Linked DNA regions of Homo sapiens: region 1 is linked to region 2. Evidence: fine-mapped expression QTL. A gene starts in region 2. The other region holds a variant in brackets. All regions are shown on one strand. Distances are from middle to middle. Region 1 overlaps AKNAD1 (AKNA domain containing 1). Region 2 holds the start of GPSM2 (G protein signaling modulator 2).

Region 1 (9,442 bases), 47 kb after region 2:
AAAGAGGCCCCTTCCTCATGCAGCCTCCAGGAAGGCCCATGAGGCTCCCACAGGAAAAGCAGTCTTGGACCACGAGTTACAAAGCCTGGTAGCCTGGCTCCTCACCTGCCCCACCAGCAGGGCCTGGCCAGCCTCTGCAACCCTCTGGGCAGAGATCTGAGGGACGGGACAGCTGGGGCTGGGGGACGCGGGGAGAGGTGAAGGTCAAGTGGCCGCATGAGGCCCATAGCACTCTCTGCCTTAGGTTGCTCGCTCCCACCATCCCAGGGGTGATGCCAAGTGATTCCAAATAGTGGAGCTCCCAGGTAGCTCAAGAACTGATTCTAACATTCAAACTGCTTTTTTTTTTTTTAAATTAGTTACCTAAACGGTCATTATGGAGATGCAGCTGCCCAGAACAAGCCAGACCAAGTGGCCATGAGGCTGTCTTCTAACTCTGGGGTAATGTCCTGCAGCCGGGGCCTGGCTGGGTTCTTCTCATTGTTGGCTCTTTAACTAAAACCAGTGTTGCTGAATGTGACTGTGAAATTGGCATAATCAAGATCACTTACCTCTTCCTAATGGCATCCTGGGTGTCAGTGCTGGTGATGGCTGGTACTGCTGACGGTTTCCCACTTTCTGCACTCCTGAGAATCTCGGCAGGCGTACCTAGACCGGAGCTTCTCCAACTTCTCCGAGCCTATGAATCACCTGCAGATCTTGTTAAAATGCAGGCTCTGAATCAGTAAGTTTGGGGCGAGCCTGCAATTCTGCATTGCTAACAAGCCCCAGGTGATGCCAAAGCTGCTGGTTCTGGTCTGCGGACCACATTTTAAATTCTGAGGGTCTAGAGATTATTTCATTTCGAATGAATTGGAAATGCTGGGATTACCAACCCCGGGGTCTTAAATGATATTATATTATAATATTATAATAAGCAGTAAACAATGATATAATAATTATGTTGGCTCAGAGCTTTACAGTTTGCAAAGACTTTTTGCAGAGGAAGAGTAGTTTAGAAAGGTGATATTTGTTCAGGGTAAATGATAGGTGATGCCCGGGTCTCCAACTCAGGTGGAGGGGCACCTCCCTGCATTCTGCTAATGTAAATCTGCCTTAAATGTCAGTGGAGGAGTAACCCTGTAAGCTCAGCAATGATAAAATATAAAAATTAAAAAAAAAAAACCATGGGAAAAATGGATGAAAAAACCCTTTTTTTTTAAATTATAAAACTGATACATGCTTATTACAAGAGAAATGAGAAAATAAAGAAAAGTATAAAGAAGAAACTTCCACTGAGAGGAAAATCAATCTAATTTTTTTTTTTTGAGACAGTCTCGCTTTGTTGTCCAGGCTGGAGTGCAATGGTGCGATCCCAGCTCACTGCAACCTCTGCCTCCTGGGTTCAAGTGATTCTCCTGCCTCAGCCTCCTGAGTAGCTGGGATTACAGGCATGTGCCACCACGTGCAGCTAATTTTTGTATTTTTAGTAGAGAGGAGGTTTCACCACGTTGCCCACACTGGTCTAGAACTCCCGACCTCAGGTGATCCACCCACCTCAGCCTCCCAAAGTGCTGGGATTACAGGCATGAGCCACTGCGCCTGGCCCATTGCTAATATTTTAGTGTATATCCTTCCAGTCTTTTTTTCTCCTATATATACATTTTGGCCAAAATAGGATTTTACTATATATATTGTTTTATGCTTTTCATTTAATGTTATATTTTGAGCAGCTCTCCACATCACTTAGAATAAACTATCGCTTCATTTTTGATGACTGTACTATATTTCATTATACTAATGTACTCTGACACATTTAGACAATCTCTTATTGATGGAGATTTAGTTTTTTCCAGTTCTTTGATATCATAAACACTGCTTCAGGTAACATCATTTGACATGCAAACATTTGTAGTTGATCATTTCCTTAGAATAAAACCCTAGGATTGCAGTTAATGGTTCAAATGGTACATGCTGAAAATTCTGATAATCTGGCCTTTAGGAAGTCCATGGGGGTTTATAGGCTGAGGGCAGTGCGTGGGAATGTTGGTGTCCCCAGTTTGAGCCTACCCCAGACATTTTTTTCTTTTTCCAACTTTTGCCAAATGCATAAGTGAAAACTGATATCTCATTATTTTAATCTTGCTATTTTTGAAACTCAATCTATTTTCATATGTTTCTTGGCCACTCGCACCTCCTCCTTGACAATATTGATATTTTAAGTTGTTTACAAAACTGAAACCACCATCAATTAAAAAAAATGTAGATAGACAACTGAGAAAATATTAAGGGCAAATAATGTTCATTGTTGAGAACTTCATTATATCAAATGCTGTGACAAATTCCCCAAGGAGCAGAACTGTGGTTAAGAACACAAGCATACTGGCCGGGTGCAGTGGCTCGCGCCTGTAATCCCAGCACTTTGGTAGGCCAAGGCGGGTGGATCACTTGAGGTCAGGAGTTCGAGACCAGCCTGACCAACATGGTGAAACTCTGTTTCTACTAAGACATACCAAAATTAGCTGGGTGGGGTGGTGTGTTCCTGTAGTCCCAGCTACTTGGAAGGGAGGCTGAGGTGGGAGAATCACTTGAAATTGGGAGGGAGGTGGAGGTTGCAGTGAGCCAAGATTGCGCCACTGCACTCCAGCCTGGGCAACACAGAGAAACTCCATCTCAAAAAAAAAAAAAAAAAAAAAAGAACACAGCATACCAGTCAGATAGGTAAAAGTTAAAATCCCAGCTTTCCCACTTACTCATGATGCAACCTTGCCAAATTGCTTAAATCCGCCAGGCCTCAGATCACTCACCATTAAAATGGCGACAACGTGCCAGGATGGTTGGAAGTATTAAGGAGACTATAAGGGAAGCACCTGGCACATCATGAACAACTAGCAAATGGTAACAGGAAAACACTGAAACCCTCCAAGAAAATTAATGGACAAAGGACATGAGCTAAAAAGTCACAAGTAAGGCCGGGCGCAGTGGCTCACACAATTACTCACAATTAAAGTAATCCCAGTACTTTGGGAGGCCGAGGTGGGCGAATCATGAGGTCAGGAGCTCAAGACCAGCCCGGCCAACATGGTGAAACTGTCTCCACTAAAAATACAAAAAATTAGCTGGGGGTAGTGGTGGGCACCTGTAATCCCAGCTACTTGGGGGGCTGAGCCAGAAGAATTGCTTGAACCCGGGAGCTGAGATTAGGCCACTGCACTCCAGCCTGGGCAACAGAGTGAGACTCCGTCTCAAAAAAAAAAAAAAAAGTCACAGGTAGGAAATACAACCAATAAATCAGCATATAGGAACAGACTTATTTCCTTTAGTCACAGAGGAAATGCAAATTAACACAAAAGGTGACACACCCCTCCCTTCAATTAACAGAAACATTTTCAAGTGATAATTCCTGATGCAGAGGAAGGTGTGGTCAAACTGAGCCGTCCACACTGTTGGTGGCTGTGAAATCTGTACAACTTTTGTGGAAAGCAATTTGGCAATATGGGTCATCACACAAACATGTTCGCAACCTTTGGCCCAGACATTTCCTCAGGAAGTAATCCAAGATGTGGAAAAAGCTATGTGTACAATGATGCTTCTGCCATTGTTTATAATGATGGGAAAAGTACATTTATTTTTTACTTACATAAAGGGTAAGACCTTAGTCAAAAATACACAGTGGGTGGTAACAGCCCTCACAGGTCAGTGGAGTAATTGTTTTGTGTTAAAGAGGGACATATAACCAATCATTTAGGCCCCCAGACAGTCCCTAAACCCTGTTTTAATTCATAGTTGAATATATTTATTTAGAAAGGCTTTTAGAGCTCTACTAGCCAGCGGTCAGATTAATAGATCTAAAAATTATGTTCCTAAATCTGTTCATTATCTGGCGAAGCTTGGAGTAATTTGAAACTAAGGGAAAGATAAAAAGGGGAGAGTATTCTGTCATCTGTACACCAGATTTTAAAATCTGTTTAGAGGAGGAAGGAAGCAAGCCAGGGTGGAAACTTCCATTCTTCAGCCCAGGCCATTAGAGGCGCAGCCCCGACTGAGTGACACATCAGAACTAAGGATGGGCTCTTTCTTCTTTCCCTCCTGTCCCCCTGCGCCTCCCTTTCCCCAACTGGAGGAGAGGTTTGGCGAGTCTCTCTGCCTGAGGTGGCAAGTTCAGCCGGACCTCAGCTGCTTGCTGGGCTGTGCGTGTGCAGCCGCGGCGTGAGTCACATCCTCTATCACATCTCCATCTGTGTGCTTTGTGGCGCAGGAGGATCCCAACGGCACTCCAAGAAGGCAGGATTGTGCAGAGATGACGGCACCCAGTCCGAGCTGTGCCTTCTGTCGCAGGCTCCTTGAATGGTGAGGGCTTCTTGTGGCTACATTCCCAGGGTGGATTGGAGTCAGTCCTGGCATAGTAACTCCAGTGAGAGTGGGCGGCAACTAACTGAGGCCACTGGCTGAGTTATAGAGTCACAGATCTCAGGCCTGGGCACAGAGCCCAGCCTCCCTCGCACCCTACAGATCCTCTAGCAGTGGTCCTCAACTGGGGAGACCATCAAAATCACCATGGGAGATTTTACAATCATGCACATGCCTCCATCCCACCTACTGTCTCAGCATCGCCAGCGGTGGGGCTCTGGTAGGAATATTGCTTTTAAATCTCCCCAGGTGATTCCGATAAGCCCCCTTGGTTAAGAATCATGGTTACAGCCCACGGAGGGTGGTCCTGTAGGCTTTTGATCATTGCCCACATGGGGGATTCTTATCCTGTATAACAAACAGCTCCCACCATCCCTACTCTCTCCTTATGA[T/A]GAGCAAAAGTCTTCTCTGTTGGGTTTCACCTGAGCCCCCCAGTCCCAGGAACAAGCCTCATCCCTCTTCTCAGGGCTGATTTCTTCCCATTCCTAAGGACGAAATCTTCCAGAGCTAACAAGCTGTAAATCATGTAAAATCCTCAGGAGAAATCCTTTGTTTTTGAAACACCCATTGGTGCAACTATTAATCTGTGTCGATTCAGTATCATTTATTTGAAGCTTCTTTCAGGTAGCGAGAGATGTTACCTCTAAGCTCACTGTGGACTCCGGCCAAAGCTCGGCTCATTGACCTTTGGAAGGTCAAGAGTCAGGGAGGCAGCAGGTGTTTAGCAACCACTGTTATATGTACGTAATGGATTCTAATAGAAGCAGATGACAGGGTCTGAAAGACTGAGGCTTCCTGTTAGAAAGCATTCCATTGTGGGAATGGGCACCTGCCTTAAGAGTTCTAATGAGTGTCCACCCCTGAAAAAAGAAACTGCATGAAGCTCGTGCTAAAAATGGTCATGTGTCATTGTGTGTGGGTCATTAAACCACCATGTCAGTCATCAGCTTTGAGCTGCCCTTTAATCCAAGGGGCACTCATGAAGCTTACTCACTGAGTCATCCCAGGCCTACTATTTTTATTTATTGAATTAAAGTCTAATTTTGGATTTTTAAAGGTTTTACTAAGTATAATGAAAGTATTTTGACATTAAAGAACCATTTTTATTAAGCACTCAAGGTACTAAATTTCTCTCTTCTAAATTCCTAGTCTAGACCCTACAGAAGTACATTAAGTACCAAGACAGGGACCAATGTTCCAGACTAAATAATACTTTTTTATGATAGACAAGCTGGAAAGACAAGCACAACCAAGTGTAAAATCAAATCTCACAGTGAATCCACTGCTGGGGAGTGATGAGAAGATACACATGACTTATGAATTAAAATCTTGTAACTTACATAATCCCTGAGGAATTATTGATTGAAGGGAGGACTATATATTCTTTCTGTTAGAAGATTAAATCTCTCTCTGATGGGACTTGTCCTTTATGAAGCTTGCTGAGGTACATACTGTTTTCAGGATATTTGTAAATTGTTTATATATAAGTGGATAAATTACATATGTATAAAATGTAAAATATGCTTATCCCTTTATGTTATTTCTGATGCAAAACTTTGGATTTAAGTGTGTACTTTAGCTGCTTTGTCTTGTTGAAAAACTGTCTTCTCCAGAGGAATTATGTTTGGCCAGAAGATTTGAGTACACAAAGGAGTTTAAAAGCAGAAAAAGTCCTGTGTTGGACTGCATGCACTTGAGTGAGATCCAAGTTTCCCACTTTGGAGAGCAGATGTTCAAATGCCCCAGAGGAGAAGGGTGGAGACAGAAAATGAGGTGTGAGAAAATATGTGACTCAAGAGGACAGCATGTTTTTCCAAGAGGAGGGAAAGAGCCTGGCTTCTCAGCCCCAGCCCCACAAACCCGCAGCCCCATCCCTTCTCCGCCAACAGCAGGCCAGGGCACAGCGCGGCGAGCATGTGTTTGCCCAGCAATGCCTTGGGCTCAAACCCTAGCCCTGGGCAATCTGCCTCATTTATGCCAGGATATCTCGGGCACAGTGCCTTCCATACTAAGAATGAACAACTTTCCCTGGGGGCTATGACTGTATCCCAGGAGCTTAGCAAGAGCTTTGTTCAGAACTGTTATTAATTCGAATTCCTTTGGAGGAGTTGGGATTTCTGAGGAGGAGGGAGGAAGCTGCAGGTGGGCCACAGGAAGGCTCCTGAACAATGTCCATTGCAGTTGCTTCTTTCTGACGCCACCTGGTGGCCATGTGCAACTAAAATCACCTTCACGTGCTCCCTCAGCCTTTAGTCCCACAGACACCCGGCAAAGCCCACTTTGCTGGAGTTGTTGGATGTAATCAGCTTGTACTTCCAGGACCAAAGCTACGTGACCCATTACTGACGTATAGCATAGTTTCTTCCCCTGGTAGGAACTGTTTGTTTGTTTGTTTGTTTGTTTGTTTGTTTTTGAGATGAGGTTTTGCCATGTTGCCCTGGCTGACCTTGAACTCCTAGTCTCAAGCCATCCACCCTCCTTGGCCTCCCAAAGTGCTGGGATTACAGGCATGAGCCACCATACCCAGCCTGGAATGGATTTTGATGCATGAGGAAAACTCCAAATTTTATAATTCCATACTTCAAATGTGTTTTGTGAATGTGTATGTGATGATTAGATATTAACCTCGGCAGAACAAAACATTTATTTTTCATGTCTTGTATACATTTTCTTTTTTTTTTTTTTGAGTAGGAGTCTCGCTCTGTCACCCAGGCTGGAGTGCAGTGGCGCGATCTCGGCTCACTGCAAGCTCCGCCTCCCGGGTTCCCGCCATTCTCCTGCCTCAGCCTCCCGAGTAGCTGGGACTACAGGCACCCACTACGGCGCCCAGCTAATTTTTTGTACTTTTAGTAGAGACAGGGTTTCACCGTGTTAGCCAGGATGGTCTCGATCTCCTGACCTCGTGATCCGCCCGCCTCAGCCTCCCAAAGTGCTGGGATTACAGGCGTGAGCCACCGCGCCTGGCCTGTCTTGTATACATTTTCTTATCAGGCCAAATTGTGCTGGGGTGCAATTTCTTGTAGAAAAGCTCTCAAACAGGCAGGCAGAGGAGAGCTCTGTGTAGAGGATGACAAGCCCCTCCTACACTGTTCCAGGCTCTAATATAACAAAATTTAACGTTTCAACTTTACCAAAACTTTCCCTATCTATTGGAAATGCACTAAAAGTTTACAGGATCTTATGCACCTTTTTTTAGGAAGCAAAACGTGGAGAAAAAGGGCCACGGAAGGATCAACTGTGGAAGATTTTCAATTGTCCTTCATGAAAAGGCACCACACTCAGATTCAACTCCCAGTAAGTTGATGGGCTTGGGCTGGGTGCTCATTTTTCAGTGTCCCTCCCCATGGGGTCTGCTCGCAGTAGGCACCAGCTTGCCATCTGCCACTCCAAGAGCATTTCCCTACACTAGGATGTTGCATGTTGTATTTATTTATTTGCAAAATGTAAAGAATTAATAGGCTGGGCATGGGGGCTCATGCCTGTAATTCCAGCACTTTGGGAGGCTGAGGCGGGTGGATCACTTGAGCTCAGGAGTTCAAGACCAGCCTGGCCAACATGGTGACATTCCATCTGTACAAAAAAAATACAAAAATTAGCCAGGTGTGGTGGCTCACGCCTGTAGTCCCAGCTACTTGGGAGACTAAGGTGGGAAGATTGCTTGAGTCCGGGAGGTTGAGGCTGCAGTGAGCCATGATCATGCCACCGTACTCCAGCCTGGGCGACAGAGTAGGACCCTGTTTCAAAAAAAAAAAAAAAGAAAAAGAAAAGAAAAGAAAAAAAGAATCACTTTCAATAAGATGTGGTTAAGTAGAGTAAAGCATGAACACCTGTTTCTAGCTGAAAATGAAGGACTCCATGGACTCAATCACAAGATGTCATTCAGTCTGTCCATCCTCATCCTTCCCACATGACCCATAACTGTACCTGGTAAGGTTACTGGCTACGTGAGAATTGCTGCTGCTTTGGATATATGCATTTCATAGAAGCAAAGAAAGTTGGAGCTGGGAGGTGCCCCAGTACACGCAATTCAATGGCTTTTAGTCATAAGATCCTTTTTTTCAAAGATAGTTTAAGGAGAGAAACATCTAGCAGAACTGCCCTGGGAGAAGAGGTGGGGCTGGAGGCCTCTGCTCAGGCAGCTTCTGAGCTTAAAAATCACCTCTGAGCCTAACCTACCTACCCAGCTTGTCTCCCCAGCTTATGCACCAGGAAGCTGCACTGGAGAGCTACCCAGGCTTTCTTACATCTGCACTGCCTGTGGCCCAGAGCCATGCCTCCAGCTCTGCCTTCTGTTATGTCACACTTGGTTCTGCACTGGCTTCTCTGTAGATGACACATTTCCAAATAATAATAGGGTTCATTGATTGAAGACGTATTATGCCAGATGGTATAACAAAGTAGGAGTTTTCCAGGTGTAATCGGAGGGTCCCTGGGGTTTCCTGAAACCCTTTCGGGGGGGCCACCAGGTCCTTCCTTTACCAGCCATATAGCTGTGCAACGCTAGTATTACAGGCAACTGATGGAGATGCAGTTATGGAATCCAGTTGCCTTTTATTAAGCCAGATATTCAAGATATTTGCCAAAACGTAAAATGATGCCACTCTTCTCACTAAATTTTTTAGAAATAGTTATTTTCATTAAAAACTGCTATTTTGTTAATATGACATGGATTTATTACTTTTTAAATGCCATAATAAATAAAATTATCTTTTAAACCTCTCAGTTTAAAATTCTAAAAAAAAAGCGCCTTGGAACTGCTCATTTAGTTTTGGGAAATCTAAATGATTTGCACAAGCAAAAAATGACTAGTAATCTATACATTAGTACTTCTCTACCAATCCATCTGCAGTGGACTGAATGTTGAATGCTAGCTGTTCTCCAATGAGGGGGGATTTTCACCTCAGGTATATAAAATGGTATATATTATCATTTTATGGTAGATTAAAACCACAGAAACAAAGGCTGTTTAGGGTCCTCAATTTTAAGAGTGTAAAAGGGTTCTGGAATCAAAAGTTTGAAAACTGTTGCCAGTGTATGTCACATAACTCTCACA
Region 2 (9,442 bases):
GGAACCAATTCCCCACAGATACTGATATTAAATTTAAATATTTTTCTTAGGTAGGCCCGGTGGCTGACATCTGTAATCCCAGTGCTTTGGGAGACCAAGGTGGAAGGATCACTTGAGACCAACAGTTCAAGACCAGCCCAGGCAACGTACAAGACCCCGTTTCTACAAAAAATTGAAAAATCAGCCAGGTGTGGTGGCCTGTGACTATAGCCCCAGCTACTTGGGAGGATGAGGCAGGAGGATTGCTTGAGCCCAGGAGTTGGAGGTTATAGTAATCGATGATTGCACCACTGCACTCCAGTCTGGGCCACAGAGTGAGACCCTGTCTCTAAAAAAATAAAACAAAATATTGTTCTCATCCATGAGTTCTTAATGAAATTCTAAATTTTGCAATTATAAAATGTTAATTTCATACTCCTTAAGATGTAAACATGTAGCATTTACATGTTTCACAAATTAACGAATAAGTAAATGAATATAAATAAAGTTGCAAAATATTTTACTTGATGAAAACTGCATGTAGAAAGAACCATTTCTAAGACCATTAAAATAAGCAAGAAGACAGAATGCTATTCACTATTTCAATAAGAGCAATTTATAATATAGTCTTACTATTCTCAAGGGAAGAATATCTTTAAAAGTGCCTCTTACATTACAATCTCCATAACAATTAGGTAGCACTTCACACAAAAAAATATTCACTGAACAAACAAGCAATTCTTGATTCATGATTCATGTTTTAAGAACTCTCTAGCCAATTTAGCAATAATGTGTTCACTCATGTTCCTCATTACATGGAGTTAACAAACCTACTTCCTAGATACAATGTGTGTGTATATAGTGTAAGACTAGTAAAATTTGCAACAAATATTAAATTACAAATTTGATCATTAGGATAAGAAAATTTAATCACAGGACGAAGAACTGGAAAATAATTTGTAGGTTTGAAAGGATATTGAGAAGTCATCAAGTTCAACCTCCAACCTCCACTACTATTTACAACTAACAATCTGCAAGGAACAAATCTGTCTCTTAATAGCATCTTCCAAGCAATGCTCCAAAAACCTCAAAATTAACAAAATTGCTAGATCACGGCATCTAACCATAAAGAAAAGGCAATCATTTTTTCCATATCCCGGGAATTGACAGAGACATATAGAAAGATCAACTAGTACATAACTCTAACTGCCTCACATTTAATTATCTGATTAGGAAGTCAAAATAGACAGACTCCCTTTAGACAGCTAGGTGGACTTCCAGGCACTGTCCAAGGTATGCAATCAGAGCAGACAAGAAAGGCTAGCTCTTTATCAAAGAAATCCTAGCCCTGCTTTACTCCACTGGCAGTAAAAAGTTTGCAAACCAGGTTACATTTTGTGCTTCTTCGAATTTATCTAAACTATCTGATCCTGACTGCCACTTAAATGCCAATAACTTTTGGTCTGTTTCTTTGTTTGTTTTTGGTCTGTTTCTTCCATCCATGGATCTACACAAACTGGTAACATTCATCAGACAATAAATATAATTTACTTTTCTTGCCACCAGGTTAGATCATCTGAACTATATATAAACCTTTTTGGTAAGCATAGCCATTTATTATTACCAACGATGGTCCAGTCATCAGCTTCAATCAATTAATACATATACATAATTTTAAAGCTCAATAGTGAAATAGAAAAGAAATGGTCCTTTCCACTAAGCATTGTTTTTTTTTTTTTTGAGACGGAGTCTCACTCTGTCGCCCAGGCTGGAGTGCAGTGGCGCCATCTTGGCTCACTGTAACCTCCACGTCCTGGGTTCAAGTGATTCTCCTCTCTCAGCCTCCCACAGGTGCCCAGCACCACGCCTGGCTAATTTTTGTATTTTTATCAGAGACAGGGTTTCGCCATGTTGGGCAGGCTGGTCTCGACTCCTGGTCTCAAGTGATCCGCCCACCTGGGCCCCTCAAAGTGCTGGGATTACAGGTGTGAGCCACTGCACCTGACCCAAACACATTTTAAAGCAGAAATAAATCCCAAATGCAGAAATATTATAAATGCTTAGAAAGGGTCCCTAGAGAGTTTGAGTTTAGAATTCTCCATAGGAAAATATATTAAACATGATTTTGTCTTCTCTTCCCAAAAGTTATCACCATTCTGTGGGAAAATAAATGTTTCTATTCAATAATGTTTTGTGATAATATGGGAATAATAATTCTAACTGAAAAGGACCAGGGAAAACTTTTTGGAAGCAAGGAATTTTGTACAGCACCTTGAAGGATGGGTAGATCTTATTAGCCAAATGAAGGAAAGGCATTCCAGTCAAGGGAAAAGAATGGCTCAAGAAAAAGGGAGGGTAGAAATGCACAGAATGTGTTCCAGGATAAGCACACAGTATTCAGAGTAGTGAAAGAGAAGGCTGAGAAGGTAGAACAGTAACAAACTGTGAGGGACTCTGAACATGTGGCAGAAGCATATATTCATATTCAGCCCCCCCTTTTTTTTTGAGATGGAGTCTTGATCTGTCACCCGGGCTGGAGTGCAGTGGCGCGATCTCGGCTCACTGCAACCTCCGCCTCCCTGCCTCAGCCTCCTGAGTAGCTTGGATTACAGGCGTGTGCCACCACACTGGGCTAACTATTGTATTTTTAGTACAGACGGGGTTTCACCACGTTGGTCAGGCTGGTGTTGAACTCCTGACCTCGTGATCCGCCCACCTCGGCCTCCCAAAGTGCTGGGATTACAGGCGTGAGCCACCGTACCCGGCCTCAGCCTTTTATTTACACAATGGGGAACCTTGCTGGTATTTTTTCCCCACAAAGGAATAGCCAAGTTGGATCTCTGCTAGGAAGATAAACCAGCAGCAACATATAAGGCAGGAATGGGGAGAAAAGAAAAATACTACAAAAACTCCAGAAACAACTACTGAATAGGAAGCATTTTCTTGTCATCTCACAACACCAACGACATTGCTTTGCACATAAGAGAGGCCCAACAAACTTTAATTTCTTCCCTGGGAAGAAGACAGGAATTATGACGAGGCCAAAGAATCCTACAATAGTGAGAAAACCGGACTGTAATACATTTCTTCTCCACAGTAAAGATTCTATTCATATTTATGTAAGAAACTCAGAAAAGTCTTACTCTTCACTTATGTTTTGTATAAAGATGATTAAGAAGATATTGAAAATATAATGTGATTTATAAGATGATTTATAAAATAATGAAGCAAGATAGTTCCAACAGAAAGATTGAAATATTTCTGCGAAGCTACAACAAAACACAGCACCTAAAGGCATCTTTAAAGTAGAACTTGTCCCTACAAATGGAATCCAGAGACACAGCAGAGATTTAAACAGACACACAGAAGCAATACAGCATGTGCTTTGGGATCAGGCCATGATTTGAATCTCGGCACAGTGACTTATTAGTTATATGATCTTACGCTAAACTCTCAGTTGGTGTGGGCATAATGACACTTACCTAAAATGTGCTGTGATAATTACAGACATGATTTATAAAGCACCTGACCCAGCACCTGGCTCTGATACATAACAAAAGTACTCAACATAGTGCTGTAGTAATAACAGTAACTGTTATTATAAAATAGACATATTTAATATATATTCAAATAAATTTAGAATAACCTAAATCTATGTCAGATTTTCCATTTTAAAATTCCAGAGAACTAATTACAAATTTCTAAAGATAGATCTTAGAAATATTTTATGTTTATGAAAAGGTCATTTTTAAAACTACTATATCTTATCACTGTTTTAATTAGTCTAGTAAGCAAGTCTCAGATCTATATTAAAATATGTTTGTAACACCGAATATCTGATTTAAGAATGTAAGAAAATACAATTAAACTGCTTATCTGGCCAGAGAGGATTTTGGAGACATGCCTCTACAACAACATCACACAACTTTTTACTTTGAAACCGCTCCAATACTTAAATTATAAGTAATAGCCTGGGAAATAGCTTGCGAAAACGACTCCGTGGTAGTTGTAAAGAGAAGTAGGTGTGAGACCACCCCTAATCCCTGAGGCCCCCCTCTCCTTACACACACCATGTCAACCAACAGTGATCTACCCTTTTTAATGTTGTTTATTCACTTCTAAACAATCAACTAAAGCTGCTCCTGAATAGTGAGAACCCAATCAAAAGTGGTATTTATCAGAAGCAATCACACCGGCTATTATCAGGCCAGAAATCTTCGGTACACCCTTCTAAAGTGGCAGCTTGAAAACTCAGCTCTGTTGGTCCTGCTGACTTCCAACACACCCCACGAACGCTCCAATGCAAACCCGATAGAAAGGAAAGCCAAGAACCTACTTCGTTTAATTCTACGGTGTGGTTAAATTATGCATTAAGGCCAATAAAATTTCCATCCTTACTCGTTTTCTTTAACAGAGTTCAAATGCTACTAGTTCAAATGCTCTAACTGGTTACTATTAAAACAAGGAAATTACAGATTTTTTTTTATTCGAAGGTATTCTATAGATTTCAGGAAAGAGTTTTCTTAACGTTTTATGTTTACTTACTCTTTTTGCAGCAACTACCAATTTCTATGGTAAATCGACCAGTTGGTGCCCAAAAGTTCACTAATTTAAGCACGGTCAAGGCAGGTATTTGCCATAAACTGCCTGGTTTAGGTAGGACGCGCCCGACTCCAAGTGATTGCAATCAGCCTCGGAATGAATTCCACGGGGATTCGGGCTTTGATTCACAATTTGTTACTCACATTCAGAGTGGTAAGAAGTCGCTGGACTCTAGTATAGTTTTTATCTTAAAAAAAAAAAAAGACTCAGGAGTGAGGCTCTTAACGCTTTACTCTCATTTGAAGACCTTCCGACAAAAAAGCAGCAACTCCTCAAGCCGAGTTTCTGGTTTCTTGAGCATCGACGCCGCGTCCCCGCAGCGCCCACAGGTCCCGCAAGCCCCCAGCCCGCCTCCTGCCCAAAACAAAGGACGTCACCCCCAGACCTCTGGACACAGAAGCCCCACACGCACGCACACGCACCCCTCCCTGTCACCTCCCTCCGAGAGCCCCTCAAACGCCTCAGAACCCGCGTCGCGGAAGCGCTCACCTCCCGCGGGCGGGCGGGTCCCGGGTACGCGGTGAAGGTGCAGCGGCGGCCGCCTCGGGCGACAGACGGGTGGTCACGGCCCCTCCCCAAGGCAGGGGCACCGCAGGAGGCCGGCGCGCCCCCTGCTCCCGCCCCCGGCAGGTCACGTGGGCCAGAGCTCGTAGCGCCCCTCGCTTTCCCGGAGCGTCCCTCCGCCACCTAGGGGTCCCGCCGCTCCGCCGGTCTCAACACCGCCCTCCTCTGCGCCTGCGCCCCGGCTCCAGGCGCTCTCATTCAAACCGACAACGCCCCGCGTCTTTCGGACCGGCCAATGGCGGGCGGCGCAGCGGGGCGGGGCGGGGCGCTGGTTGCCCCCCTCTTCGCAGTCCTGGGGAACCGTCTGCGTGTCAAGGTGACAGGGGGCTTGGGAGCTTGGTCCTCCTCTGCTCCGGGACGTGTCCTCAACCCTCAGACTGAAGTTTCTTTCCTGTCCTCTTCTTTCTTCTTCAGACACTAAAAAGTAGAGCAATAAATATTGTCTAGAGTTGGCCGGGCGCTGTGACGGACGGCTATAATCCCAGCACTTTGGGAGGCCGAGGCGGGCGGATCACCTGAGGTCGGGAGTTCGAGACCAGCCTGACCAACATGGAGAAACCCCGTCTCTACTAAAAATACAAAATTAGCTGGGAGTGGTGGCGCATGCCTTTAATCCCAGCTACTCAGGAGGCTGAGGCAGGAGAATCGCTTGAATCCGGGAGGCGGAGGTTGCCGTGAGTGGAGATCGCACCATTGCACTCCAGCCTGGGCAACAAGAGCGAAATTCCATCTCAAAAACAAAACAAAACAAACAAACAAAAAACATCGTACAGAGTTCAGATAGAGGCTGGCCTAGATCCCTTTAAAAAAGGAGCGCAAAACCAGCGCCGCCTTTTTGGAAGACTTGGTGCTGCGCTACAGAATGAGTGTCCCAAGCGGCAGATGCGGGATATAGAAGAAAAAGAGGCCTCTGTGGAAGGAACAGAGGGACCGTGTGAAAGTCTGAACAAGGCAGCCTCAGTTCTTGAGGCTGTGCCCAACCCTGGCGTTTCCAGCTGTTGGAAAAGCAAACTTCTGTTGACTACAGAATCGCTGGTTCCCAGGAAAATTGGGTGGCAGTTTTACTCAGTTTCACTCAGTTTCAGCGCCTACATTCTAAAGACACTGGGAAGAATAAGTTTTATTTCCATTCACCTCTCCTCCATGTCAAGGTGACCCCAAAATAGTAGTCACCTTATAGTTTGTTCTTCACAAAATACCGGCCGGGCGCGGTGGTTCACATCTGTAATACCAGCAACTTTGGGAGGCCGAGGCGGGGGGATCACCTGAGTTGGAGACCAGCCTGGTCAAAATGGTGAAACCCCGTCTCTACTAAAAATACAAAAATTAGCCGTGCCTGGTGGTGGGCGCCTGCAATCCCAGCTATTCGGGAGGCTGAGGCAGGAGAATTGCTTGAACCCAGGAGGCGGAGGTTGCAGTGAGCCGAGATCGCGCCACTGCACTCCAGCCTCGGCGACAGAGCGAGACTCCGTCTCAAACAACAACAAAAACCAAAATACCAAGACCAGAGTCTCTCTGGGGTAAAGCATCTGATGAATTTACTTAGATTATTTTTCAAATAGATATTTCTCTTCTGAAATGAAGTTTAAATGTTTCTACAGGGTAAAGGCTATGTTAAAGAAAACTCCGGGTTCAGTATCTCCGTGAATGATGGCCATAACCAGTGATCCAAGCAACATTTCCCATTAGGTGCATGTTATGGCAAATTGCTTAAAGGAACAGCTTTATCATCAAACTAGACCTGGGTTTGAGTTCCAATTCTGCTACTTACTTGCTGATTGACCTTGAATGAGTTATCTTCTTTAGTCTTAGTTTCCCCACCTGTAAAACATAATAAAGCCTCTTCTAATAAGGGTTGCTATGATGCTTCTGTGAGGTAAGGTTGTTAAGTGGTTGACATAGGGCCTGACACATAGAAACTGCTCCATACTTGATACCTATTATCGTTACAACCATCTTTAATATCAGGTTCTTGTAAATAACAATGGAATTGGTTGGCTGTACTGTTTCAGAGGTAGGTATTAATTCCTTCTTAATTATAAATTCTTTTAAAGTATGGATACTGTGAAAGCCACAAAGGAAATTTTATATATATAGAGAGAGAGACAGGACCTCCCTCTGTCACCCAGGCTGGAGATCACTGCACAGCAGCCTCAACCTCCCAGGGCCAAGTGATCCTCCGATCTCACCCCTCCCCTACACCCCAGTAGCTGGGACCACAGGAGCTTGACACTATGTCTGGCTATTTTTATTTTTTCAGTAGAGAAAAGGTCTCACTATGTTGCCCAGGCTGGTCTTGAACTCCTGGGCTCAAAGGATCCTCCTGCCTTGGCCTCCCAAAGTGCTGAGATTATAGGCATGAGCCCCCTCACCCAGCCAGAAGTACAACATTACATTCAACATGTCCAGAATTATTTACCCCCTGCAAATCTTCTCTTACATATGTGATTTCTATCTCTGATATTAGTTACTTCCATCTTCCTAATCACTCAAATTGAAAAATATCTTTTAAATGGCATAAGTCAGATTATGTCACTCTCGTACTCGTAAACCTTTAGTGATTTCCCATTTAATTTAAAATAAAATCCAAACTTCCTGTGGGGGAAAAGGCCTTAAGCCATCTTGCCCCTGCCAATTTCTCTCTTCTCTCCTATTTTTTCCTCCTGCTGCCTCACTTTCCTCCAAGTACACAGGGCATTCTTCATGCCCTAGAATGGACTAAGCCTCAAGGTTCTCTCAGGACCTCCTCCCTGCCTAGATTTTCCCCAAGCTCTTTAAATGGTTGGCTTCTTTTCATCCTCAGCTCTCAGCTTATTCATTACAGTATTCAGCAAGTATGTATTAAACTTCTGCTGTGTGTCAGGAGCTGTTCTAGGTACAGGGAATATAGTAGTGAGCACAACAGAACACAGCCCCTGATCTCTTGGAGCTCAACAAAAATAAACAACAAGAAATATCAGGACTGGGTGTGCTCACACCTGTAATTGCAGCACTTTGGGAAGCTAAGGTGGGACGGCTGCTTGAGGCCAGGAGTTTGAGACCAGCCTGGGCAACATAGTGAGACCCTATCTCTACAAAAATAATTTTTTTTATTAGCCTGGTGTGGTGGCACACACCTGTAGTCTCAGCTACTCGGGAGGCTGAGGCTGAGGCCCAAGAGTTCAAGTCTCCAGGGAGCTATGATCCAGCCACTGCACTCTAGCCTGGGTGACAGAGCCAGACCCTGCTTCAAGAAAGAAAAAAGAAAAAGAAAAATATCAGGTTATGATAGGTACCATGCAGAGAGTTACAAGAAGGGTGATGTGAGAGTGAGTAAGTGACTACTTTACTTCAGATTGGGGGCTAAGATAAGGAAGTCCTCTCTGAGAAAACGGCATTCAAACTGGGATTTGAATTATGAGAAGGAGCCAGCCTTCAAGCAAACTTCAGGGAAAAGCACATTAGGAAAAGGCAACAGCCAGTGCAAAGTCCTGCGAGGATTTTGCAGGATTTGAGAGCTTTGTGGACTTGAGAAACCGGAGGAAGGCCACTGTGGCTGCAGTGAGAAAGAAGAAAACATACAAAAGGCAATGTAGACCTTTGTAAGCCAGGGTAGTGAGTTTGGACTTTATTTTCTAAATATTATAGGAATCCTGTGGAAGGTTTTAAATATGGGAATAACTTCATCTGATTTATATATATATATATATATATATATATATATAAAATACGTATATATATATATGTATATATATATACGTATATATATATATATATATATATATATATATCTTTTTTTTTTTTTGAGATGGAGTTTTGCTCTTGTTGCCCAGGCTGGAGTGCAATGGTGCAATCTCAGCTCACTGCAATCTCTACCTCCAGGGTTCAAGCAATTCTCCTGCCTCAGCCACCCGATTAGCTGGGACTACAGGCATGTGCCACCATACTCAGCTAATTTTGTATTTTTAGTAGACAGGGTTTCACCATGTTGGTCAGGCTGGTCTTGAACTCCTGACATCAGGTGATCCGCCTGCCTCGGCCTCCCAAAGTTCTGGGATTACAGGTGTCAGCCACCATGCCTGGTCCTGATTTATATTTTTAAAAAAGCACTCTGGAACAAATCCAGAATTTGAGACATTCTGCAACTAGCCCAGACTCTTTATAAATGTCAATGTCATGAAAAACAAAAAGGCACATTAGTCTTGCTGGGGATCCTGGATCAGAGAGAGAGAAAGACAGAGAGAGAGAGAGAGAGGAAGGGATCTGTTTAAAAACATACTGTGATCTGCTCCATAACATTTATGTTTAAATGCCTATT

The links. PIP is the estimated chance that this variant, and not a neighbour inherited with it, causes the effect.
Region 1: its variant is fine-mapped to the expression of GPSM2 in esophagus mucosa (GTEx, PIP 0.97).

Annotation. Positions count from the first base shown.
Region 1 is chr1:108,825,446-108,834,887 of GRCh38, reverse strand. AKNAD1 (AKNA domain containing 1) reads left to right here. Exons shown (of 16, transcript NM_152763.5): 9 at 360-441; 10 at 4,238-4,329; 11 at 7,586-7,683. LOC105378891 (a long non-coding RNA gene) reads right to left here. Exons shown (of 5, transcript XR_947687.3): 3 at 552-698. Among named protein-coding and RNA genes, the nearest start is that of AKNAD1, 27 kb to the left of the region's middle. The variant T/A (reference allele first, on the strand shown) is at 4,782.
Region 2 is chr1:108,872,857-108,882,298 of GRCh38, reverse strand. It overlaps GPSM2 (G protein signaling modulator 2), which reads right to left and starts at 5,314. Exons shown (of 15, transcript NM_013296.5): 1 at 5,071-5,314. RefSeq lists silencers at 4,919-4,988, 5,079-5,478 and an enhancer at 5,559-5,658.